Homo sapiens: one gene and its partners. The protein of the gene in region 1 interacts with the protein of each later gene in a pairwise test. Each region holds a gene or a part of one and is shown in the gene's direction. Other genes may lie near its edges.

What was found.
Region 2: the proteins of LUC7L2 (region 1) and CEP126 interact in a two-hybrid assay, tested with the Homo sapiens proteins (2 studies listed by BioGRID and IntAct).
Region 3: the proteins of LUC7L2 (region 1) and EXOC1 interact in a two-hybrid assay, tested with the Homo sapiens proteins (2 studies listed by BioGRID and IntAct).

What each region holds. Positions count from the first base shown.
Region 1 is NC_000007.14:139,411,103-139,419,312, forward strand, and holds part of LUC7L2 (putative RNA-binding protein Luc7-like 2), read left to right. Parts: intron 1-1,448; coding exon 1,449-1,478; intron 1,479-6,359; exon of another isoform or gene 6,360-6,435; coding exon 6,436-6,627; intron 6,628-8,210. Other genes in the region: FMC1-LUC7L2 readthrough protein, read left to right, coding at 1,449-1,478, 6,436-6,627. UniProt on the Homo sapiens protein: May bind to RNA via its Arg/Ser-rich domain.
Region 2 is NC_000011.10:101,909,345-101,918,444, forward strand, and holds the start of CEP126 (centrosomal protein of 126 kDa), read left to right. Parts: upstream 1-5,665; 5' UTR 5,666-5,940; coding exon 5,941-6,068; intron 6,069-6,674; exon of another isoform or gene 6,675-7,178; intron 7,179-9,100. UniProt on the Homo sapiens protein: Participates in cytokinesis. Necessary for microtubules and mitotic spindle organization. Involved in primary cilium formation.
Region 3 is NC_000004.12:55,898,122-55,906,270, forward strand, and holds the end of EXOC1 (exocyst complex component 1), read left to right. Parts: intron 1-1,563; coding exon 1,564-1,763; intron 1,764-2,713; exon of another isoform or gene 2,714-3,033; intron 3,034-4,222; coding exon 4,223-4,417; intron 4,418-6,221; coding exon 6,222-6,374; 3' UTR 6,375-6,965; downstream 6,966-8,149.

The sequences.
Region 1 (8,210 bases):
TTGAGGTGACAGTAACATGGAACAGAATTTCTTTGCAGGACTACATTTTCACATTTGTAGATGATGAAAAAGTATATCACATCTTACTCCTTTGTTTGCCAAATGGCAAGTTTCTTTTGACAGTGATTATATAATGCAAATTTCAGAAACATTAAAAAAAAGTCGTTGAATCTGTGAGCTTAAAGAAATATGGAAGTATGGAAGATGAGGAAATTAGAAACTAGTATAAAATTATATAAGATGGGATAAAAGAAAAAAATCATAATCATTTACTGGGTGCTTATTGTATGCCAGACACTGTAGTAAGGAATTTATCCATATTCATCTAATCTTTATAAACCCCACCCCCACTCCACCCCAGTAAAATTTATATTAGTATCCCTCTTTTGCTAGTGACAGAGTAAGCTGAGAGAGGATATGTAACTTACTTAGGTCACACAGACAGTGAATGGTAGAACCAGAAATAAAACTCAAATCTGGCTGATCTCAAAGTCATGCTTTCAACAATGCTATATATCATCCAAAAAAAAATAATAATCCCTGTGGTGTCCTACTAGCCATAATATTCACTTTACATTTCATTGAGCGTTACCTGTGTGCTAGGAAATGTGACAAGTGCCTTAAGTAGAGTATCTCATTTCATTTGAAGAAACACATTGTAAGATTGAACTAGGTGTTCTAGAGATTATAGTATGAGGTTGTAGCTCCAAGAGTATGTAGATCTCAGACCATAGAAATTTCACTCTTTTCCCAGAAGGGAAAAAAGAAATGACAGATATAAAAGAATTTTTTCCAAGCTGGTAAGTGGTTTCTGGAAAATTAGCAAGTTGTGATATGTAGGTTGAGCATCCCAAATCCAAAAAATGAAATCCAGTGAGCTTCAAAATCTGAAACTTCTTGAGTGCTGGCAGCATTTAAAGGAGATGCTTATTAGGGCATTTCAGATTTTGGTTTCTGGATTTAGGGATGCTGAACCAGTAAATTATAATGCAGACACTTCAAATTTTGAAAAAAATCGGCCACCTGTAATCCCAGCACTTCGGAAGGCCAAGGTGGTTGGATCATTTGCATCCAGGAGTTCAAGACCACCCTAGGCAACAAAAAATGTAAAAATTAAAAAAAAAAAAAACAAAAACAAAAAACAGAAAAAATCCGAAACACTTATGATCCTTAGCGTTTCGGAGAAGGAGTACTCAACCTGTACTGTGTTTTAATCTCCTAGGAACATATTCTTTAAGAGCCAGGTATTCTTGAGTTAAGCAAACCCTGCAAGGTGAAGAAATCTGTCGAGTTTGTGGTGTCTTTTGGAAAATTTTGTGTGCGTAGGTACACGCCTTGTATTTATAAAATTAATGTAAACATTAGAAATCAGGAAGAATATAATGTAACACTGCACTGTTTTCTTATTTATAGCCACTTTTCTAAAAATACATATTTTTTTTTTTTAGGTCCCGATCACACAGCAAGAATCCAAAAAGGTAGGTGTATTACATAAGACAGGTATAAGTAGTGAAGTTGTCTTTTTCAAAGGTAGTTTTTATAGATTGATTAAATGGTCCTTTAAAAATTTTCTTTTTTGGCTGGGCACGGTGATGCATGCTTGTAATCCCAGCTACTCAAGAGGCTGAGGCAGAATTGCTTGAAGCCGGGAGGCAGAGGTTGCAGTGAGCCAAGATAGCACCACTGCACTCCAGCCTGGGCAACAGAATAGGACTCTGTCTTTAAAAAAAAAAAAAAAAAAAAAAAGAAAATTTTTTTTGAAATCATTTAGATGCTCAGAGTAGATACGTAAAAGGATTAATTTTTTAAAAATCAATTTGGGTGGTACATTTAGGAAACATGTTCTAAGAGGTTGTAGCTGTTGAAAACATTAGTAGGTTAATAGTTGGATAAAATTTTGATTGATCCACTGTGGGTTAAGCAAAACCAAAATGTTTAGTATACCCTCCAGTCTTGACTTTATGTGAGTTTATTACCCATTCCTTTATACAGTGATCACAGAAGGCTTTCAGAGAGGCATTTGCAGCCTTAAAAGAGCAAGACAATACTTTGTTTTGACTTTCAGCGTTAATATTTGGGGTTTGAAACCTTTCTTTGTAGTTTTTGCTAGTTGCTGATACATTTTTTTGTCTGAGAAAGGCAGGGAAATGTGTTGTACTTCATCATTCTTTCTCAGTTCTTCACTTGCCCTTCTCATTCCAGTCGTTGAGCTTTCTTCATGGATCCATTCCCACCTAGAATGCCCTTTCTCAGTCTTTTCCAAATTCTACCATTCCTCTTGTTCAGATCACATCTTCTTTTAGAAACTTTCTGAGTTCTCAGCTCTAGAGACTATTTCCCAAGAAGTTTTCCCTAAAAAGTAGAGAATTTGTTGTTATGAAAGAAAAACCTGGCTGAGCGCAGTGCCTCACGCTTATACCATCACAGCTCTTTGGGAGGCCGAGGCAGCCAGATCACCTGAAGTCAGGAGTTCGAGACCAGCCTGGCCAACATGGCGAAACTCCATCTCTACTAAAAACACAAAAATTAGCCGGGTGTGGTGGCAGGTGCCTGTAATCCCAGCTACTTGAGAGGCTGAGGCAGGAGAATCACTTGAACCCAGGAGGTGGAGGTTACAGTAAGCCGAGATTGTGCCACTGCATTCCAGCTTGGGTGACAGAGTAAGACTGTCTCAAAAAAAGAAAAACAAAAACCTTACAGTTCTGTTAGCAACATCTATCAATGATATTTCTGCCTAAAACACTAAAAAAACTAAAGAACATTAATAAGTGGGGCCAGTTGTGTCAGCTAATTTATATTATTGGTGAATTTCTCTGATCTAGCATGATAAGTAGAAACATTAAACTGTGATACTGTTATTGTTTACTGTTTGATTAATATAAGCTGGTCCCTTTGTTGAAAACATAAAGTATTGCACATAGAACATCTTTAGATATTTGGGCCAGAAATTTAATTTCTATTCCTCTAGTCCTGTTACCTAGATAATATGTTTGCCTTGTAACTGGGCTCCTTAGTTCTCTGTGCTTGCCCACCCCCCTTCTTCACCTCATTCTATTTTTCACACGTCAGCCAGGATGAGCCTTTAAATAAATGAAATACATCACATCAGCCCTCTGATTCTCCAAAGGTTTTTCATCTCATTCATATGAGAAGTTAACATCTTTACCAAAGCTTTTACATAGGGTGACGGTGTGGCCTGGGGTGTCCAATCTTTTGGCTTACCTGGGCCACACATCAGATACACTAATGATAACTGATGAGCTGGAAAAAAAATTGCAAAGAAATCTCATAATATTTTAAGAAAGTTTACAAATTTGTGTTGGGCTGTATTCAAAGCCATCCTGGGCAGCATGCGGCTTGGAGGCCGCAGGTTGGACAAGCTTGGCATAGCCCAAACTGCCCTGGGATAGTTCTGGTTTATGTCTTTTATCCCAGAATATGTATTAATAGCTTCTCATTACATTCAGTAACTTATTCAGAGCCTTCTAGTTTGAATGATAAAGTACCTGGTCATCCTGCCTGTAAGACCCTGATATTACTTCCTTTTGCTCACTTCATTCCAGCCACACTGGTCTTTTCCTTCAACATGCTGAGCTTTTTCCCACCTCAGGGACTTTGCATCTGTGTTCCCTCAGCCTGAAGCACTCCTCTCTGAGATGACTGATTCACTTGTTCCCTTTCTTCTTTCAGCTTTGCTTCAGTGCCAACCTATCAGAAAAGCCTTCCCTGCTTATTCCGTATAAATATTTCCACTCTTTTCTCTTTTTCCACTCTACGTAATAACATCTTTTAATTTTTTTTTGAGACGGAGTCTTGCTCTGTTGCCCAGGCTGGAGTGCAGTGGCAAAATGCCAGCTCACTGCAACCTCCGCCTCCCAGGTTCAAGTGATTCTTCTACCTTAGGCTCCCTAGTAGCTAGGATTATAGGCACGTGCCACCATGCCCTGCTAAGTTTTTTTTTTTTTTTTTTTTTTTTTTTTTGTATTTTTAGTAGAGTAGGGGTTTCACCATGTTGGCCAGGCTGGTCTTGAACTCCTGACCTCAAGTGATCCGCCTGCCTCAGCCTTCCAAAGTGTTGGGATTACAGGCATGAGTCACCATGTCCAGCAATAGATCTTTTTTTTTTTTCTTAACCACCTGACATATCTTTATTTACTGCCTACAAACCTGTATAGATCCCTTTCTATAGTATAAGCACTAAGTTTAGTGCAGGAACTTTGTTTTACTTGCTACTCAACCTCCCCTAGTATAGAACAGTGCAAAAATACCTAGTGAATATTTTTTGGATGAAAAAATTACCTAGAATTTTTAAAAAGATGAATAAAGTTATACATTGGAAGAAATGGCATTCATAATAACTCAAAATGAGTGGTTAAACGAAGTATGATTTGATAAAACTTACACTGAGAGTTTTATATTTTTTCCCTCTGCTTCCTTTTGGAATTACTCTTTTCAGCTGTGGAAATAACGCTTTTTTTTTTTTTTTTTTTTTGAGACAGGGTCTCACTCTGTCCTGAGTAGCTGGGACCACAGGCGTGTGCCACCATGTCCAGCTAATTTTTAAAAATTTATTGTAGATACGGGGTCTCCCTATGTTGCTCAGGCTGGTCTTGAACTCCTCCCGTTTAAGGATTAAGCAGTCCTCCCATTGTGGCCTCCCCAAGTGCTGGGATTACAGACACAAGCTATTGTGCCCAGCCAGAAATACTCTTTTTAAGTGTGGCTAAAGCTACGTCCATGTCATGTACCTTTCTTTGACTATAATGTTGACATAAGCTGAATGCCTTTTAGCATCGTTCATAACAATCAGTTGAAGATAAACTGTATTTGTAAACTATCTCATATGTATAATATGATTTTGAACTTGCTGTATCAAATTATGAGCAAACCTCACATTCTTAAAGTGACTTAAATTTAAGAGTTTTATTGAGGTATAAAATATATATATATATATATATATATATATATATATATATATATATATATATGATTTACTCTGAAGTCAGTGATTTTTTAGCAGATTTAAAGCTGTGCAACTATCACCATAATCCAGTTGAGAACATTTCCATCATTCTTAAAGTGACTCTTCTAACAAAGTTGCATTCCTTTGTTTCCCCTTGTTTTCTGTCAAACGTTTATGTCCTCTCCATGCCATTTCCACCCTCACCATGCACCCCCACCCACCCCACAAGTTAGTTTGTGACCTGGTGGAGGCTATAAAAGTGTCTTACCTTGTGGGTTTTTTTCTTTTCAAAAAATGTCTTTATTTTGCCAGCACCTTGATCGTATATTTTCTGGTTTTTCAGAATGTTTTTCGTTCTCTATTTCTGTGTATTCATTAGAAATACATTTTTTTTGCAATCTGAGTCAAGTTCTCAAAAATGATTTTCGCAAGTGTTCTTTCTCCCAAACTGTTTGCTCCTTGAATAGAGAACTGTCTTACTGTGTTTGTTTTGTCTTGCTCTCTATTGCCCAGGCTGGAATGCAGTGGTGTGAACACAGCTCCCTGTAGCCTTGACTTCCTGGGCTTGGGTGATCATCCTTCCTTAGCCTCCCAAAGTGCTGGGATTAAAGGCGTGAGCTACTACCCCTGGCCCTTACTCTGTTTTGATTACACTGTGACTAGACATGCATATTGTGGGCATTAAAAACTTACTTCTATGGTTATCTCACCTTTCTAATTCAGACAAAGAGTAATTTGTCCTGACGTATTCTTCCTCATCTCTTCTCTTCCCTTCTGTCCAGGTCTGTCAGGTACATATTTAATTTCTAGAGGATACAAAAATGTTCAAGATATTTAAGTGCAATTAAATTCATAACAAATCTAGATAATATAGCCCCTGGCATATAGTAGTGGTTCAAAAGTTGCTTTCACTTGAAAAACTATTTCTGATAATAAATTTATACATTACTGATTGCTCTCTGAGAATTATCAATCAGTGTCTTGTTTTTGAGACAGAATTTCACTCTTTTGCCCAGGCTGGACTGCAGCGATGTGATCACCAGGTCATTGCAGCAGCCTTGACCTCCCTGGCTCAAGAGATTCTCTCACCTCAGCTTCCTGAGTAGCTGGGACTACAGGCATGTGCCTCTGTGTCCAGCTAATTTTTGTATGTTTTATAGAGACAGAGTTTCGCCATGTTGCCTAGGCTGGTCTTGAAATCCTGAGCTCAAGCGATCCTCCTGCCTCAGACTCCCAAAGTGTTGGGATTACAGGTGTGAGCCACGGCGCCTGGCTGAGAATTATTAATGTTTTATTTTGAATTCTAGTATGTAGTTATTAACACACCAGCAATTCAGTGTAGATTTAGCTGACTTGGAATATAATTGACATTAAGACTACTGAAAAAAAGTTTCTCTTTAAAGAAAAGGCTTTAATAAATGAGAAATATAGTAATTACAAAGGTAGAAACAAAATCAAATCTTGTCTGGTAGATCCAGGTCCAGAGAGCATCGCAGACATCGATCTCGCTCCATGTCACGTGAACGCAAGAGGAGAACTCGATCCAAATCTCGGGAGAAACGCCATCGCCACAGGTCCCGCTCCAGCAGCCGTAGCCGCAGCCGTAGCCACCAGAGAAGTCGGCACAGTTCTAGAGATAGGAGCAGAGAACGATCCAAGAGGAGGTATTGATGTGTCAATCAGAGGATATGGAGCTACCTTAATGTTTTAGAGTTGTTTATGTTTACTTATGTTACTTATGTTTAGAGTTCAGATTATTGGTTTGAAACTTTTGCATCTGGTAATATGTACACATTTATGTGTGGGTGTACAACATTTTTCTGTGATTATATGGGTAGTTTTGAAAGAATATACTTATGAGCCAGAGCAAGAAATTGGAACCAATATGTGTAGAGGTTATTGCTTTTCTCTGCTTAGTGTGTCTTGGAAAAAAGTTCTTTACAGGTAAATAATTTTAAATACCAATACCCTTAGTATGGATCAGCAAATTAGGGGCTCTGAGAAGTCCTTTCATTACAAGAGTTGTTTAGCTTTGATTTATTGTTTTCTAAACTTATTTGAGCTGGGATGCTTTTTCAGAGCAGACACATTCTAGTATATTCTTGTTTTATCTGCACTATAGATATGTATTGTTACATACCTTCAGCTTGGCAAGGCAGACTAATAAGGAGGTTCCAAGACTTCCCTTGGTTTAATGAGAACATTCAAAAGGTGCAGGCATAGGGTAAGGTATGTTTGAGGACTTGAATATCTATTAAGGATAGACAAAGGATTATAATGTGGTAGAAGAGTTTAGCATTCATAGTCTGTATAGATCAAACTGTCAAAACTTCTCAGGTCACATGATGGCCCTTAAACCAGGTAATTTCTGTGTAACGTAAGCCATGTTTAAAATTGCTTTTTTCTTGACAACTATTCAGAAGTATATGTATGATAAACATTTTTTGAGTGCCTAGTACCTACTAGTCTTACATATTCTGTGGATTACTCCACATAAAATCTATAATAAAATCCACAGAAAGCTGTTAAAATCTTTCCTATTTTTTTTTGACTCAACTTTCCATTCCCTGAAATCACTCACAAGCTGAGTTTGTTAATAGGCTCTCAATATTTTATTTCTTATATTCTGGCCTTGTTTTTAGTATTTCTTAAGGTGATTTTAATAATAATTAATTGTATATGTTTTACTGTACTAGACTTAGTAAAACATAAGAAAGACGTATAACATAGTTGAACAACTTTAAGTTGCTCTAAGAAGTTTCCTATGTGAGGCTGGGTGCCATGGCTCACGCTTATAATCCCAGCACTTTGGGAGACCGAGATGGGCGTATCACTTGAGATCAGGAGTTCAAGACCAGCCTGGCCAACCAACCCCATCTCTACTAAAATACAAACATTAGCCGGGCATGGTGGCACATGCCTGTAATCCCAGCTACTCAGGAGGCTGAGGAAGGAGAATTGCTTGAACACAAAGGTGGAGGTTGCAGTGAGCCAAGATCGCACCACTGCACTCCAGCCTGGGTGACAGAGCGAGACTCCAGCTCTCAAAACAAAAAAAAACAAACAAAAAAAAAAACAAAAAGTCTCCTATGTGAGTTAGAACAAAGGATTGACATCTTTGACAATAATTAGACTGGCATAAGACTACCACATGTTATAAAGTGCTAAACTGCATATCATAGAATAAATGATCCGAGAGTTTAGATGAGGCAAATAACAGAGTAATCAAAAATGGCTTCAGGTAGTC
Region 2 (9,100 bases), on another chromosome or scaffold:
GTTTCAACACTCCCTTACCCTGGAATCTTGGACAAAGTTACTAATATTGCTATAGCTTGATTACCTCCTTTGTATTATGGAAATTGTTGTATGGATTAAAAGATATGTAACATTGCGGACAATATTGATGACTTTTATAATTTATATTAATAGGCAAATACACATATTGTAATCTTAAATTTCTAGTTGAAGTCTTACAAAATTCAAGTGAAAATGGCAGAACTTCAGCAGAAGTTGGCAGAACTTTAAATCAGCCAGATGTTAAAATTCTTTGTTCTTTCACATCTTGCCCAGAGACCAATTCAGGAAATTCTTATTTGAGCAAGAAAATACTTCAGTGGAAGATGGAAAAAAAAAAATAGCCTCAGCCAAGACAAAAGTGAAAGCACAAAAAAATTGTCCATCACAGCTGCCACATGGTTATAATACTTGTTAAATTAAATAAGCAGGAGGCCATTGCCTGAGGCTGTCTCTGTACTTTGAGTTCCTCTGTAGCAAACTGCAGCCTGACTTAGGAGTATATTTTTTGTAACAAATAGTGGAGTTTCAGCCAATCATAGGCAGCCAACTAATCAGAGTATACCCAAATAAGATAAACACCTAGCTGTAGGCAATCACATGATTCCTCTACTTTGTTTCTGTGTCCAACAAAATCTTGCTGCTCATGCTGCTGGGTGGAGCTCTCTGAACTTCTTGTTCTGGGTGCTGCCCAATTCGTAAATCATTCTTTGCTCAAATAAATTCTGTTTATTTTCTGTTCTAAAGATACTAAAAATAATATTCAGGCTGGGCGCGGTGGCTCACGCCTGTAATCCCAGCACTTTGGGAGGCTGAGGCGGGCGGATTACCTGAGGTTGGGAGTTTGAGGCCAGCCTGACCAACAAGGAGAAACCCTGTCTCTACTAAAAATACAAAATTAGCTGGGCGTGGTGGCGCATGCCTGTAATCCCAGCTACTCAGGAGCCTGAGGCAGGAGGATTGCTTGAACCCGGGAGGTAGAGGTTGTGGTGAGCCGAGATCATGCCATTGCACTCCAGCCTGAACAACAAGAGCAAAACTCCGTCTCAAAAAAAAAAAAAAATATATATATATATATATATATTCAAATTAGATAAGTTATGTGAATATGCTTTATAACCATAAAGTGGTTATTATTAGTTTCCTTTGTAAATAAAACATCAACGATTTATGAGACCACATTAATGAAATTGCATGTCTAATAGACATCTCACATTTAACATGTTTGAAGCCTAACTCGTATTCCTTATTCCACCCCTACCTATTCTTTCCCATCTTAGTAATGGCAACACACTTTATCCAATTGTTTGAGCCAAAAATCTGAGTCACATTTGACTTTTTTTCTCTCGCTTACTGCAACCATCCACCAACACATCTTATTGGCTCAAGGTTCAAACTGTAAACATTTCTTGCCACCTCCACTGCTACCATCCTAGTCCAAGTCTGCCATCTCTGGTAACCTTAAAACTGTCCTTATTGTTTCTGGTCTTATCTCCTACAACCTAGTTTTCCCCACAACAACTAGAGGGTCTCTTTAAAGGTTCAATAAAATTGTGTTACTCTTCTAATCAAAACTCTCAAATGGATTTCCCTCCATTGAAAGTTGGATTTTACATTAAGTCCTTGCATACAATACAAGTCGCCACTAAATCTGGGCCATGTACCTCTACAATCTCATATGTTAGCACACTTCCCTTATTATATGGTTTGGACCTGCATCCCTACCCAAATCTTTTTTTTTTTTTTTTTTTTTTTTTTTTTTTTTTTTTTTTTTTTTTTGAGACAGAGCCTTGCTCTGTCACCCAGGCTGGAATGCAATTGCACAATCTCGGCTCACTGCAACCTCTGCCTCCCAGTTTCAATCGATTCTCCTTCCTCCGCCTCCCAAGTAGCAGGGATTACAGGCGCTTGCCACCACGCCCAGTTAATTTTTGTGTTTTTAGTAGAGATGGGGTTTCACCATGTTGGCCAGGCTGGTCTCAAACTCCTGACTTCAGGTGATCCACCTGTCTTGGCCTCCCAAAGTGCTGGGATTACAGGCGTGAGCCACCATGCCAGGCCTCCCCGCCCAAATCTTACGTCAAACTGTAATCCCCAATGTTGGAGGTAGGGCCTGATGGAAGGTGATTGGATCATGGGGGCAGATATCCCCACTGATGCTGTTCTCACAATAGTAAGTGAGTTCTCATGAGATCCGGTCATTTTAAAAGTGTGTGGCACCTCCCCTCTCTCTTTCAGTCCTGCTCCTGCCATGTAAGATGCCTGCTCCCACTTTTCCTTCTACCATGAGTAAAAAGCTCCCTAAAGCCTCCCCAGAAGCAGATGCTGCCATGCTTTCTGTACAGCCTGCAGAACCATGAGCCAATAAAACCTCTTTTCTTTATAAATTACCGACTCTCAGGTGTTTCTTTATAGCAGTGCGAGAACTGCCTAATACACCCTACCTCACTCTATTCCAGCAACAGTGGTCTTGTGCTGTTCTTTGAGCACAACAGTATGATTCTGTCCTCACAGTCTTCTGTACTCACAGACCCCTGTGCCCTTATTCTTCATCCAGATATTTGAATGGCAACCTCTTTCCTTCATTCAGACCTCTGTCCTAATTTCCCTTCCTTTGGGGCCTTTCCTGAGCACCCTCTCACAGATAGAACTGACATTGGTCTCTATCCCCCTTCACTATCCCACTTTCCATGTAGCACTTTTCACTACCCTAATATGTTCTAGTGGGGAAGAAAAATAAATATAAGCTTCACGAACATAAGGACTTTGAAGTTTTATTCACTGTATCCCTAGCACCTGGAAAGTGCTTGGCACATAGTAGGTGCTCAATATATATTTCCTTAGCAAAAGAAGGAATTGTTTTATGGTTTTAAAGTGTGAAAGAATATAACATTGTATTTAATTCAGATGCCCCTTCTGATAAAAAATAGGGATTTTAGGGTAACATTCTTCTTTACTGCTTGAATCACAACTGCCTTTCCTGTCAAGAGATGAAGTTGATAAAATCCTCAAATTTTTTATTATCCAAATATCTAATCCTAAAGCCTTTTTCCATAAATAACACTGACAAAAAAGTCATGACAAAATCAAGCATCATGATGTTCAGAGCCCCTTGGGCCCTGCCTTTCTATAAGAATCTAGGATTCTACAACTTAAATAGAATGTGGAAAACCCACTTAATATTTTGAAGAAATAAAGAAAGAATTTAAAGGTCGAAAAAACCTATGATTAAAAAAACTGGCAACATTGTTTGAAATTTCTTTTCTTCTTGGTTGTTACCGTAAAACAATATTTGAATGAAGAATAATTATATAAGTCTAAACTGAAATAAAATCCTAAGCCCCCACTGACTGAATAGACCCCCTCTTGGCCAAGGGGACCCTGGGAAAACCTTAAAACTGAGTTCCCAGCCATAATGGGATGGAAGGTCAGCTATGCCTCATTATATCCTCTTCCTGTTGTAGTTTGGACACAATTGACCAGGATTAACGTTAAAGTAGAGATCATTAGACTGACGGAACAGACACTTGGTGGCAGTAAGATATCAAATTACAAATAGGACCTAAGGCCATGCCAGGCAAGGGTTAAGTCATGCACTCCTACACTTAAAGAATAAACTATGTTTAACTTCCACAAGTTTTCTGTTTTTCTCTAGCAGCTAAACAAACACTGGCCTTGAGATAAGCAATAGTAAAACAATCGTAGCTCACCACCAGACACTGACTAACTGACCCTCTGTTCCATAAGCCATAACTACAGCTTTGATTGGACAACAGACTGATTTCAATAACTTTCTCCTGATGAGAACATCACCAACCATGAGGTGGTTCTGGCCAGTTTAAGAGGACTGCTCACTTGAGTGCCTTTGTGTCCTAAAAAAAATTTAGACATAATAGGGCCTAATTGTAATGCAATTAAATGTTAAGTCTCCAGCCCAAAATGAACATGGGTCATATGTTACTGTTTGTTCAATATACATGCATCAGAACTACCTTCATAAATATTCATAGCTCCTCCTATATCCTATAAATTATGTATGTTTAGCCAACTTTTCAGCATAAATCTCCTACCTCAACATCCCTCCTTCAAAGTACCTGCCTCTTTAGGCTTCAGTTGGAGGCACACTCCCAGCTTGTGGGATGGCCCTCCTTTCAGGCTGTAACCCTTTCCTCTCCTTTCTAGATTCATAAATTACGTGTTTTTTTAAGTTAACGTAAGAAAGGATTTATAGGCAATTGAGAAACCAAATTATGCTTCTTAGTGCTAATATACCAAGCCACAAAGCAGTGAGATGCCTAGGACTTACGAGATCGCAAACTAATAATATAGCAAAAGCTGGACTTCTGGAAAGCTAACCATGCCTAAATATTCCAAATAGCAACTCTAATATTCTCATATTCATCTGTACTTTGCACTGCCCTACTTTACTCAGATCACCCATGGGGAGACAAACGTGTGATGACAGCAGTGGGAATAGAATCAAGGCCATTGCCTGTGGCTAGGCCAATTAAAAACTTGCCAAGATAGCCAAGTGTCCAGTTGTATACATTTAGCTTTTCATGTCAGAATTGTATATTTTATCCTGTTGGTATGCTTCTGAAGGAGAGTTCATGTGTTTTGTGTCTTAAATCGAAACTGGATTTGTTGTGGCACTTTAAAATCTGTCGCCAGTGTACATTCCAATTTGAGTCATTGCAACCAAGTTTGCAAAGATTGTTTTAAACAGTTTCAACTGGAAAAGTTTATTATTTGAAATCTTAAAATGAACAAATTAATTCACAAAGGCAGAGACATTTGAATGGTGGGTGAATAATCTTTATTTGGTCTGTACTTTCTGCTTCCAATCTGGGAATTTTTCCAAGAAAACACTGACTGAAATACAGTCAGAATTTATATATGCATTTACATTAGGCTCCAACAATAAGATTCAGCCTTTTTCAAAACTGTCACTTGCATAGCCAATAAACTAGTGTCTCAAAAATCCATTTAATTTTCCATACTTCCCAAAACCATTTCAATGCGATGATCTCTTTTGGCATATCTTCCCAAGAGATTGCTAGTTTTGCTGTGATGGTCCATTTCCAGAATCTGGCAGCAATGCGAGAACCATTAGGAGGCTTTGAAATGTAGACCTTCTAAGTAGGGCAAAGGCAAGGAAGACGACTGCAGAGGGAATGCCAGAAGCATTACCGAGTGGATGAGAGAATGCAGGGAAGGAAAATTTCCACTTCACAAAGACATTTTAAAGAGACGGTGTTTGGGGATGATGATGCCACAGAAAGACTCACAACTCAAAATCTCACAACAGGATTCAGTAGTTTAACAAATTCAACTCCAAATTGTCCCCCAGACAATCACTGCAGACTCCTCCCGGTGGCAATTGCCTGTATCTGAGGATTTTACATCTGTCTTTCGTCACTGTCGGTACTGCCACAAAAACACTCTCATAAAAAGGGAGGCAGAACTGCATCAGGCTCTAAAACAACACTCAGCTCACCCCTCGCGCAACAACCCGGGTCCCTAGGGATGCTTGGGTTGCCACCCGCCGCTCGAAGCTGGAGGGGCCGCCGGAGCCTGCGATTGGCTGCTTCGGGCACATCGTCCCGCCCCGACCTGTAGCTCCTCCCAGGTTTCCGTTGTCAAGGACGCGCCGTCGGTTGTTGTCAAGATGGCGGCTGCAGGGTTGCTGCCGCCCCATCTGCTATTGCCCGGCGAGGTCGCCGCTGCCTCAGCTGCCATCGCCGCTACAGGCACCAGTGCCGCTGCGCGGGAGCTAGGGCTGTCGAGGCCAACCCTTCCGCGCCCGTGACGCGGGGCCTGAGAGACGGAGTGTAGGGAGGGGCCGAGCAGGAGGAGGAGGAAGCCGGAGCTGCCATGAGGGAGGTTCTGGGGGCGAGCAGACAGGCGGCGCTGAAGTGAAGGATGCTGGCGGGGAGGCCCGGAACCCGGAGCGCGGTCGGGGAACTGGGCACTGAATCATCGGACAACCTCGACAGAGCCCCCCTCGGCCCTCGGGAGAGCGGCGGGCATCACCGACCTGGCTCTTACCTGTATCCTTCCCAGCCTGTGGCTGCCAGGGTAGCGATGTTGAAAACGGGGCCCATCTTTTTCCAATTAGATTCCCATTACCTTTGACGCAGGGTGATCAAAACTAGCAAGTCATCTTAGTGCAGATATTTCCTTTAGCAACTGTCGTGTCTCACCTTAGACCTGAAATTATACCATTTTATCTAATTCTGTGGCTGCTTCCCCCCATCACCCTGTTATCCTACTCCCATTCTTCAACTTTGTAAAATTTTTGTGAATTTTAAAACACATCAACTGTGTATTCTGTGGGGATATTTTTATGCCATTATGTTCTTTACTTACATATTAACTACTTCCTGATTTATCGTACTACTTGGAGAGAGAAATTACACAAATAAGTAAAATGTTTTGCTATCCTAAAGAGTCCGTTTTAACAGTTATCCTAACACAGCCCTAAATGCATTTACCAGAGCTGCTAAAGGCTACACAGTTTGGTAAGTTGTTTTGTTTTCCATCTCTGCCCAGTCTGTTGTCAGAGCGACAGAAAAGAGGAAATGAGAAACAGGGGACCTGGACGCTTTACAATCTGGATTAACTCTGACTTTTCTCGAAGAGTTGGTTAAGCCTACCTTTGATGTTGCTGTTGGTTGCATTGTAGAAAATGGAAAGAGGAGAAGTATTTTGTTATCAAAATCTGTAAATCAGGTTTATTCCTTTAGAGACTGTTGTGATGATTAGGATTTAACCTTTGTATTCCCAAAGGACTTGGTTGGCAATGATGGTGTTGTGTAATCATCTTCAGTCTTGTCAGAGATGAGTGTCTTCTCTTTCCAAGTTAACTCTGTTTTCTTATCCCCTTTGTCTCCAATTTCTAGGATGTTCTTTGTACTCTGTTACAATTTTAGCAGCAAGTCAACAATTTGTATTGAGTGCCTGCTCTTTGGCTGACTCTGTTCTAGGTTCTAGGGATACAAATCTAGTGAGGAAGACAAATGTGTATAGAGCTTCACTAAAAGTAAAATATCTCTTCTCCGATCATGCTTTCTGCAATCTTCCATCCCTTCAGTCTTTTCTTTCTTTGGGCAGGTTCTCAAAATGGTAGCTTGCAATAGCTGCTTCTAGTTCCTCTCATCTATTCATTATTAACCCCATTCAGTTTGGCTTTTGCCCTTGCTGCTCCCCAAAATTGCCCTCTTAAAGGTTACTCTGAAATGAACACAATCATTTTCTGTATGGATTTAATTCTGGCCTCTTGACATTATATTTTCTTGGACACAACTGCTATTACACGACCCTGATTTATCTCTAAATCAGAAAATAGGGAAGTATTGTAAATGGCTCATTGAGAGTGTATTTTCTGTTATTTTCATTAATAAAATGGTTGTAGGCCTCATTTTTTAAATTTTATGTGGTATAAATTTTTGATACAAATGCCAAAGAAAATATTCATAAATAGAATCCAGCAATACTTTGAATGAACACAACCAAATAGACTCTATTCCAGAATTAGAATGACATTTCCTATAAAGAAATACAACACTAAAAAAGATCCTTAAAGGCTAAATATATAGTTAAAATTAGGCAAGTTATAAATGAACATTTTAATAGATGACCAATAGACTTTGATAAAATCCAACAATGTGTGTGTGTGTGTGTGTGTGTGTGTGTGTGTGTGTGTGTGTGTGTGCTGGTTTATATATATTTTTGCTAGTTTGCATATGTGTGTATATATATGTTTAGATAATATATATTTAAATTGGAACAGAGGAATTATTTTTGAACATAATAAAGATTATAACACTAAATCAAGAACATTATGTTTGCTAGCTGGAAAAACACTAAAGTACCTTTTATATAAGTTTAATTGGAATGTTCTTTGTGTCTATAATGTTTCCCATTGGATACCTAGCACAGAGTAGGTGCTCAAATTTACATGACTAAATGAAAAAAAGGAAAGAAAGCAAATGAAAGGACCACAGCCTTAAAATAAGCAAGTATGTGGTAACATTTACATTTCAATTTCAAATATGAACATGATACTCAGAGGCCATCTGGCTTTCTGTTGAAGACATTTTCTCACTGGAGTCAGAATTTTCTGACTCTAAAGGTTATAAAACAACAAAACCTTATGAAGTTTATTTAATTAAAATTAGCTAAAGTTCTGTCATTTCAATCTCTTTTTCTCTTTTGAGAGTTCAAATAGAAATGGAATTTAAAAAAAAAAAAAAAAGGAAGGTCTCTCATGTCCCCTTATACCTGCCTTTTTTTCCTCATAAATATCTCTACCCTTCAACCCTCCCATTTTATCCTAGCACCCACCTTGCCTCTCCTTTCCTCTCCAGTTTATACCCTATTCTTAACTATTTGAACTTTCTCTCACCAACATCTTTGGCTATTTGTACCCCAATCATTCTGCCTCAGCCACTCAATAACTACTATAGTCCTGCTCCTTTACTCCTTCATGCGAATAATAAAAATGCTGTCAAAGAAAAATCACAAAACAATACAGATTGTACCACTAAAGATTGATGGTTTCCAGCTTCACCTAAACAGGAACAGGGTTCTTTCTTTTTCCTATGAATGCCTCTGCCAGGTCTCTGTCACCTTCCATCACACTCGATAGACTGTCTTACCACTTGATAAGACTTGGATGCCCTGACAGGTCTGTTCCAACAAACAGCACAAACACACACACTCCCACCCACCTGTCTTTTTTTCCCCCCAGGCTCACTGATGGGATCTTACTTTTACTATAGAAAGTGAAGTGAACCCATTCAGCTGGGCCCAGTGGCTCACATCTGTAATCCTAGCACTTTGGGAGGCCGAGGTAGGCAGATTGCTTGAGTCCAGGAGTTCGAAACCAGCCTGGGCAACGTGGTGAAACCATATCTCTACAAAAAATACAAAAATTAGCTGTGTGTTGTGGTGCATGCTTGTAGTACCATCTACTTAAGAGGCTGAGGCAGGAAGATTGCTTGAGACTGCGAGGTGGAGGTTGCAGTGAGCCGAGATTATGCCACTGCACTCCAGCCTAGGCAACAGAGTGAGACCCTGT
Region 3 (8,149 bases), on another chromosome or scaffold:
GTGGTGTGTCCCTGAGTTTCAGCTACACAGGAGGCTGAGGCAGGAGAATCATTTGAGCTCAGGAGGTCAAGGCTGCAGTGAGCCTTGTTCATGCTACTGCACTCTAGCCTGGATGACAAAGCCAGACCCTGTCTTAAAAATAAATAATAAATGAATGAATGAATTCATTATTCGTTCTTTATAAATCTTTATAAACTAAAACTTATAAAACTTAAGAACAGACAGATATTCCTTTAATTGGATAAAAAATCTATCTCAGGCCTAAAGGTTACATGATACTTAACTGCAACAGTAGAGATATTCCCTCTGAAATGAATTTAAAGCAGAAGTATTGTTAGATCCTTTATTATTTAGCATTGTTATTGAAGTGCTAGCCAGTACAAGACCTGAAACATAAATAACTATTTATCCCCAAAAATCAGCGAATAGAATTTTCAAATCAAGAAGAAAGTAAAGATCATTTTTAATCTTGTTGTACAGAGATAATGTTAAATTTTTATTCTTCCAAACTTTTAAATTCCCTGTCCCTCTCTTCTATATATGGGCATATTGTATGTGTGCTTTCTTTAATATAAAAGTGTTGTCATACCTGACACACTATTTTTGAAGCTGCTGGACTCTATATAATCTTAGTATCTTTCTTAGTTAGTTAATATAGATAAACATAATCATTTTTAATGATTGCATAGTCATCCATATGTCATTATCCATTTACCAAATCTTCTATTAATAAACATTTAGGATTTTTTTAGTTTATCTATCTTTGTATACTTGTCAAATAATTTCTTTAGGGTAAATTACTAGAAATGGAATTACTGGGTCAAAGGATTTATGTATCTCAAGTCTTTTCCCAAATTGTGATACAGAAAGCTTATGTCAGTTTAGTGCTATGAGCAGTTGCATTACAGCTGTACCAATGCTGGGTTTTACTAGGTATTACCAATCTTTTTATTCTTTGTCAACCTGATAGGCTATAAATTATCTCACTATTTTATTTTGCATTTCATTGATTTTGTATATGGTGTCTTTACTTTACATGAATTTTCAAATTTTATCTCCAATTTATTTATCTTTCCCCTTAACAGTCTTCTAAATTTTGGGCCATTCTTAGCAAGGTCACACTATTGCAAAATTATTATTTTTCTATTAGTTATATTTTCTTTAGTACTTATGATTGTATTATTTGTTTGCTTTTTACATTTTAAATAATTTAGCAATTTAGAATTTGACTGCAAGATGTAAAGTAGGAACTTAAATTTCATATATTAAAATGGTCCAGCCGGTTGTCCTAACACATTTTGAATAATTCATCATTTCTCCATTGATCTGAAAAGCTACTTTTATTATATACTGAATTTCCATATACACATGGGACTGTTTTAGGATGACTTTTTATTATGATTAGGTAGATCTGAAGACTCCCATTACAATATATTGTATTAAGTCCAGAAATGTGCTTAATTCTTAAACTTACAAATGAAAAAAAATTAATAGTATAAATGTTTATAGCTAAATATGGTCATACTCAGAGATGTTATTTTATTTTTTCTGTTTTGGTTTTAGTGGAGAAAGTAGCAAATGAAAGCCAGAAGACCCCCAGGGATGTGGTTATGATGGAAAACTTTCACCATATTTTTGCAACTCTTTCTCGATTGAAAATCTCATGTCTAGAAGCAGAAAAAAAAGAAGCCAAACAAAAATACACAGATCACCTTCAGTCTTATGTCATTTACTCTTTAGGACAACCTCTTGAAAAACTAAATGTAAATATATTTTCATTCAGTATTTTTCCTACTTTTGAACCTATACACATAAGTTTGCATATGAATAACCTGCAGACATTTATCTTAAATTTTCTCATGTGTTGGTGCACAGGGGACTCAGTTATTGAAGCTGCCAGTGTGCCAGACACTGCTAGATGCTATATATTTTATTTCTTCTTTCTGTACATTATTTTTATACATTATTTATCTACTATATTTTAATGATAATTGTACTAGTATTCTATTATGCATTATTTCTTTTAATTCTTATAAACAATGATGTGTAAGCTAAGATAATATTATCCCCATTTCACAAATGAAGAAACTGAAAGTAAAAAAACTTGCCCGACATCATAATAGCTTATAAATTACAAAGCTGGGGGATGAACCTAGATTAGGCTTTGCCGTTACTCTTTCCCATTTCTTACTTTATAAATGACCAAGTTTACAATGTCTAGGTGGAAATTTCAAAAATATTATTAAGATAAAAGAAAAACCAAAAATTGCTTTCTACATTGCCTTTTACTTTTCTTTCCCTTCTTTTTTTTTCCTTACTTGAGTCATTTCCCAGAGTAAGTCTGTTAATTAAAGTTAAGAAATGATGATTTTAGGGAACTTTACAAGATAGTGAAAGCTTAAATGAACCTTTTAAACTAACTTTGTCTGCAATATAGTTATCTTTTATAAGCTCTTAACTTGAAGTTAGAGTAAAATAGCGCGGTGACTCACACCTGTAATCCCAGCACTTTGGGAGGCCAAGGCAGGCGGATCACGAGGTCAGAAGATCGAGACCATCCTAGCTAACAAGGTGAAACCCCGTCTTTACTAAAAATGTAAAAAAAAATTAACTGGGCGTGGTGGCACGCTCCTGTAGTCCTAGCTACTTGGGAGGCTGAGGCAGGAGAATCACTTGATCCTAGGAGGTGGTGGTTGCAATGAGTGGAGATCACACCACTGCGCTCCAGCCTGGGCGACAGAGCAAGACTCAGTCTCAAAACAAAACAAAAAAAAAGAATATGTATCTGCTGTCAACAATTCAAAGAAATACTTGAAAGACATTTAATCAAATGCAGAACTAATTCCTTATAAAACTTAAGAACAGACAAATATTCCTTTAACTGGATAAAAGATCTATCTCAGGCCTAAAGCTTACATGATACTTAACTGCAACGTTAGAGACATTCCCTCTGAAATCAATTTAAAGCAGAAATATTGTTAGATCCTTTATTATTTAGCATTGTTGTTGAAGCACTAGCCAGTTCAACAAGACCTGAAACATAAATAAGAGATATGGAAAACAGAGACGAGATTATCACCACCTGTATATGATATGTTGAAATTACTGGTGTTGGTCAAGTGACAAAATTTAAAGCAAATATACTGAAAAACAATGTATTTCCTGTCTACCAATTAAGAGCTTATGTAAAAACAAAATTTTTAAAGCACTAAGAATAACTTCTCAAAGAATGATAATTTAATGAATAATCACTAAGAAAATTTTAGAAAAAAGTAATGAGAGGGAATGGGGTTTGTCAGCATTAATTCTTTGTATCGTGCTCAAATACAGTTATGCCAGTCAATAAAAGTATATATATAAAAGAAGACCTGGGAATAATAGTTACAATAATATAACAGAGTCAGTATATTTAATATAAAAAATCTTACTAAAATCAATAAGAAAAGCACTAAGACCCCAATTTATAAATGGGGCAAGGGGCTGAATCACTACTAAACATATAAAAGCAGGTTAACCTTATTTATAGCCAAAGAATTATAAAATAAAATGACAAACTTTTTTTACTCTGGCAACTATTGTTATAAATTGTCATAATGCTTATGATGGTATAGTGAAGTAGCAACCTCATACACTGTTGACAGAAATATAAATTGGTTGAGCTTTCCTAGGAAGCAGTTTGTATATATACTGAAGAATCTTTCAAATACTTAAAGTTATGCTCTTCAACAGAGTAATTATAGTCCTGGAAATTTAATCAGTAAGATGGGTAAATACTTATATACAAAAAAAATTTATGACAAATATATTTATAGTAGATTTTCTAAAGTCTCACTAGATTTGCCAAGTCCAAAAAAAGAAGGGGGAGTGGGATGTTAAATATCTAGTACTAGAGGAATGAATAATAATTGTGGTTCAGTCATTGTGTGAAATATTATGCAGCCATTAAAATTTATATTTAGGAAAAAACAATATTAAATGTAAAGTGGGACATGAAATTTTAATCTCCTGTATGTATTCACACATCAAAAGATTACAAGGAACTCTACAATATTAACAATGTTCATCTCAGAAGTATGTTAATAAGTGATTGTTATTTTATTGTTTATACTTTCACACACTGATTTTTGCATGGTGATTATACACTACTTTGTAATCAGATTTTTTTAATGTAAATAATAATAAATGCAGGTCTTAGCCATTGTTTCTTTTCATTTCCTTGAAGCATTTCTTTGAAGGTGTTGAAGCTCGCGTGGCACAGGGCATAAGGGAGGAGGAAGTAAGTTACCAACTTGCATTTAACAAACAAGAACTTCGTAAAGTCATTAAGGAGTACCCTGGAAAGGAAGTAAAAAAAGGTCTAGATAACCTCTACAAGAAAGTTGATAAACATTTATGTGAAGAAGAGAACTTACTTCAGGTATGCTTACTTCTTTTGACCATCTGACTTAAAGATCCTTACATATATTGCTTTTCTTTAAATAATTTTCTAGAAATGCTACAGATCTAGAGCAGGAGGAGAGTTCCATTAGAGTACAGACCAGATTAATGAATTGTGAGGAAGAAAGGAATACTGTTTATATAAGCATATATGGCTATTTCTGCTTATTTCGTATTTCTGCTATATTATGGTGAGGCATTAAGTTTGTTTTTCTTTGGTTGGTTGGTTGGTTGGTTGGTTGGTTGGTTGAGTGGTTGGAATTAGAGATGGGTTCATAATCTGGCTCCAGATTAAGCTGTGTGACTTTGGGAAGTTACTTAACCTCTCTGAGCCTTAGTTTCCTTATTTGATAAGTGGAAACGATACATCTCTTGTACAGTAGCCACTGTATTGGGCAACATAGCAAGACCTTGTCTCTACTAAAAATTAAAAAAATTAGCTGGGCATGGTGGCACGTGCCTGTAGTCCCAGCTACTCGGGAAGCTGAGGCAGGAGGATCACTTGAGCCCAGGAGATTGAGGCTCCAGTGAACTATGATCCTACCACTGCACTCCAGCCTACGCAACAGAGTGAGGCCGTGTCTCAATTAAAAAAAAAAAAAAAAAGAAAGAAAGAAAGAAAAAGAAAGAAAGAGAAAGAAAGAAAATCAGCTTAGAGAGGTGGAGTAATAGGACCAAGCTCTCTTAACTAATGGGTAGTGGAGCCAGATTTAAAGTCCAAATTAGGCCATTATTCTTTATAAACCATATTGAAAGGCCCAGATATGAGTGAGAGTAATTCTGATTTCAACATCATGGAAGACTTCCTGAGGGATATTGCATTGTTTGTTTTAACCTCTGAAAGTCAGATGTACTTGAACAGGCAAAGTGGGGATGGAGGGAGTAGCATTCTAGAAAGAAATAATATGAGCTAAACGATGAAAAGTAAAAAGCATAACACTGCTTAGGGAATAGCGATTGGTCTTAAGTTGGCAGGAATTTAGGATTTATGAGATTTAGGATTTACAAGAAAAAATCTTGGAAGAATACATTCCCTCAGCTGTCAAATAGGGAAGATGATCATAATACCCACCCTCACCAGGTCATCATGAGACTTAATACTATAATATATTCATAAAGTGCTTTGTACTGTGCTGATAAAGAGTAAGCTTCAATTAATGTAATCTATTTAAGCCATTATGTCAATGTGTGTATCACATTGTGTCTTGGTAATTGTCTACATATTAGCCTCCACTGTTAGATTATAAATCACATGATTGCAGATAATGGGTCTGAGTCATTTTGCTGTCCTCCAAGGCATCAAGCAAGGTTTTGCATCAACAATTTTAGATAAAGAAAACTTTAAATGTTATAGGAAATGAAATTAAAGCATTACATTTTATGTAATCACTAGTCTTAGTTCTATACATAATTGTGCATATCCACATCTGTGTTGCATATTGGAGTATATAAGATAATAGCTAAAATGTCATGAGTGCTTACTTGTGTCAAACGCAGTTTGAAGCACTTTATGTACATTTCTTATTTAATTCTCACAGCATTATGAGGAAGGTCTTATTATTATCTTGGTTTATAGATGAGGAACTTGAGGCATAGAGCAGTGATGTCATGTACTGAAGGTTACAAATCTTGTAGGTAAAAGTGACTGGGATTCTGGTTTCAGAATGCATGTTCCTAGCTACTATACTACCCAAATTCTTAGAATATGCCTTGGCATTATTTCTGCATACTAGATTACATATTATTTCCATTCATAGCCTAATGACTTTTTTTTTTAATAATAGGTGGTGTGGCACTCCATGCAAGATGAATTTATACGCCAGTATAAGCACTTTGAAGGTTTGATAGCTCGCTGTTATCCTGGATCTGGTGTTACAATGGAATTCACTATTCAGGACATTCTGGATTATTGTTCCAGCATTGCACAGTCCCACTAAACCTTGTGAAAGAAGAAAAGATAACTGAATGAAGCATTTGAGTATAACAGACACTATACCAAAATACCAAGCAACTGTTTTGAGAACCCAGACTTAAAATTTTATGTATTATTAAATGTTAGATAAATGGGTAGTACCATACTACAAATATTTAAATGCAAAATTACCAACCTATATAGCAGTTTTATTTGCCCTATAGGTTGCATACTAACTTAAGCATTCATGTCACCATAAAATGCCTTTAGCATTTCTCAATGACTGGATGGGAAATTTTCCTTTATTGCCTAGCTGCTTGTGTTTGAGTGGTTGTCCTATGAGCAATGCATTTGGAGTTCTTCAGCTTTCACTACTTCTCTGTTGCTTGCTAATCATGTAACTACTAAAATACTGTACAAAATTGTTTTTTCACACTAACAAATGTGTATATGGAGAAGAGGGCTCATGTGATGATCATTTGTGAACTTAGATTTTTGAGGATTATGTGACTAGTAATAAATGTGAAATAAATTTTCAAAAAAGTTGACATTTGATAATATTTTTAGGTCTATCATATGCTGTCTTCTGTATTAAAGCAAGTTCTTACAAAATCCATATACAAAAATTAATTGCAAGTTTATATACCACAAAACACTTAAAAGTTTAATAATAAGTAAAGTAAGCCGGGTGCAGTGGTTCATGCCTGTAATTCCAGCACTCTAGGAGGCCAAGGAGGGAGGACTGATTGAGGCCAGGAATTTGAGACTAGTCTGGGCGACACAGTGAGACCCTGTCTCCATAGAAGAACAATTTTTTGTGGTGGCACATGCCTATAATCTAAGCCACTTGAGAAGCTGAGGCAGGAGGATTGCCCCAGCCCAAGAGTTTGAGTGAGTTGTGATTGTGCCACTGTACTCCATCCTGGGCAACATAGCAAGATATTGTCACTTGAAAAAAAAATAAGAAAAATAATAATATTGAAGATGTTTAGTATTTAGGACTAACTCTAACAAAAGATGTGCTATATCCTGAATTGTGGCCCTACTAACATTTTATGTTGATGCCCTAACCCCCCATGTGGCTGTATTGGAGATAGGGTCTTTAAGGAGACGATTAAGTTTAAATGAGGTCAGAAGAGTAGGAACCCTGATCCAATAGACTCAATGCCCTTGTAAGAAGAGGAAGAGACAGCAGAGCTCACTCTCCCTCTGCTGTGGGAGGGCACAATGAGAAGGCAGCTGTCTGCAAACCAGGAAGAGAGCCCTCACCAGAACCTGACCATGCTGGCACCATGATCTCAGACTTCCAGCCTCCAAAACTGAGAAAATAGTTTGGCAGCCCAAGCTAATACAAGATGTATAAGACATTTATGGAGAAATTAGAACTACTGAAAGATATTAAAGAAAACCAAAATAAGTGAAGAAGTATTTAATGTTTCCAGATAAGAACACATATACTAAAGTAGAAATGGCAGTCCTTTTTGTTTTGTTTTGTTTTGTTTGTTTTTTTTTGAGAGAGACAGGATCTCTCAGCTCTGTTACCCAGGCTGGAGTGCAGTGGTGTGATGATAGCTCACGGCAGCCTCTATCTCCTGGGCTCAAGTGATCCTCCCACCTCAGCCTCCCAAGCAGCTGAGACTACAGATGTGCACCACCACATCTGGCTAATTTTATTTTTTGTAGGAATGGGGTCTCACTATGTTTCTCAGGCTGATCTCAAACTCCTGGGTTCAAGTGAGGCTTCTGCCTCAGCCTCCCAAAGCACTAGGATTACAGGTGTGAGGCACTGCACCAGCTGGC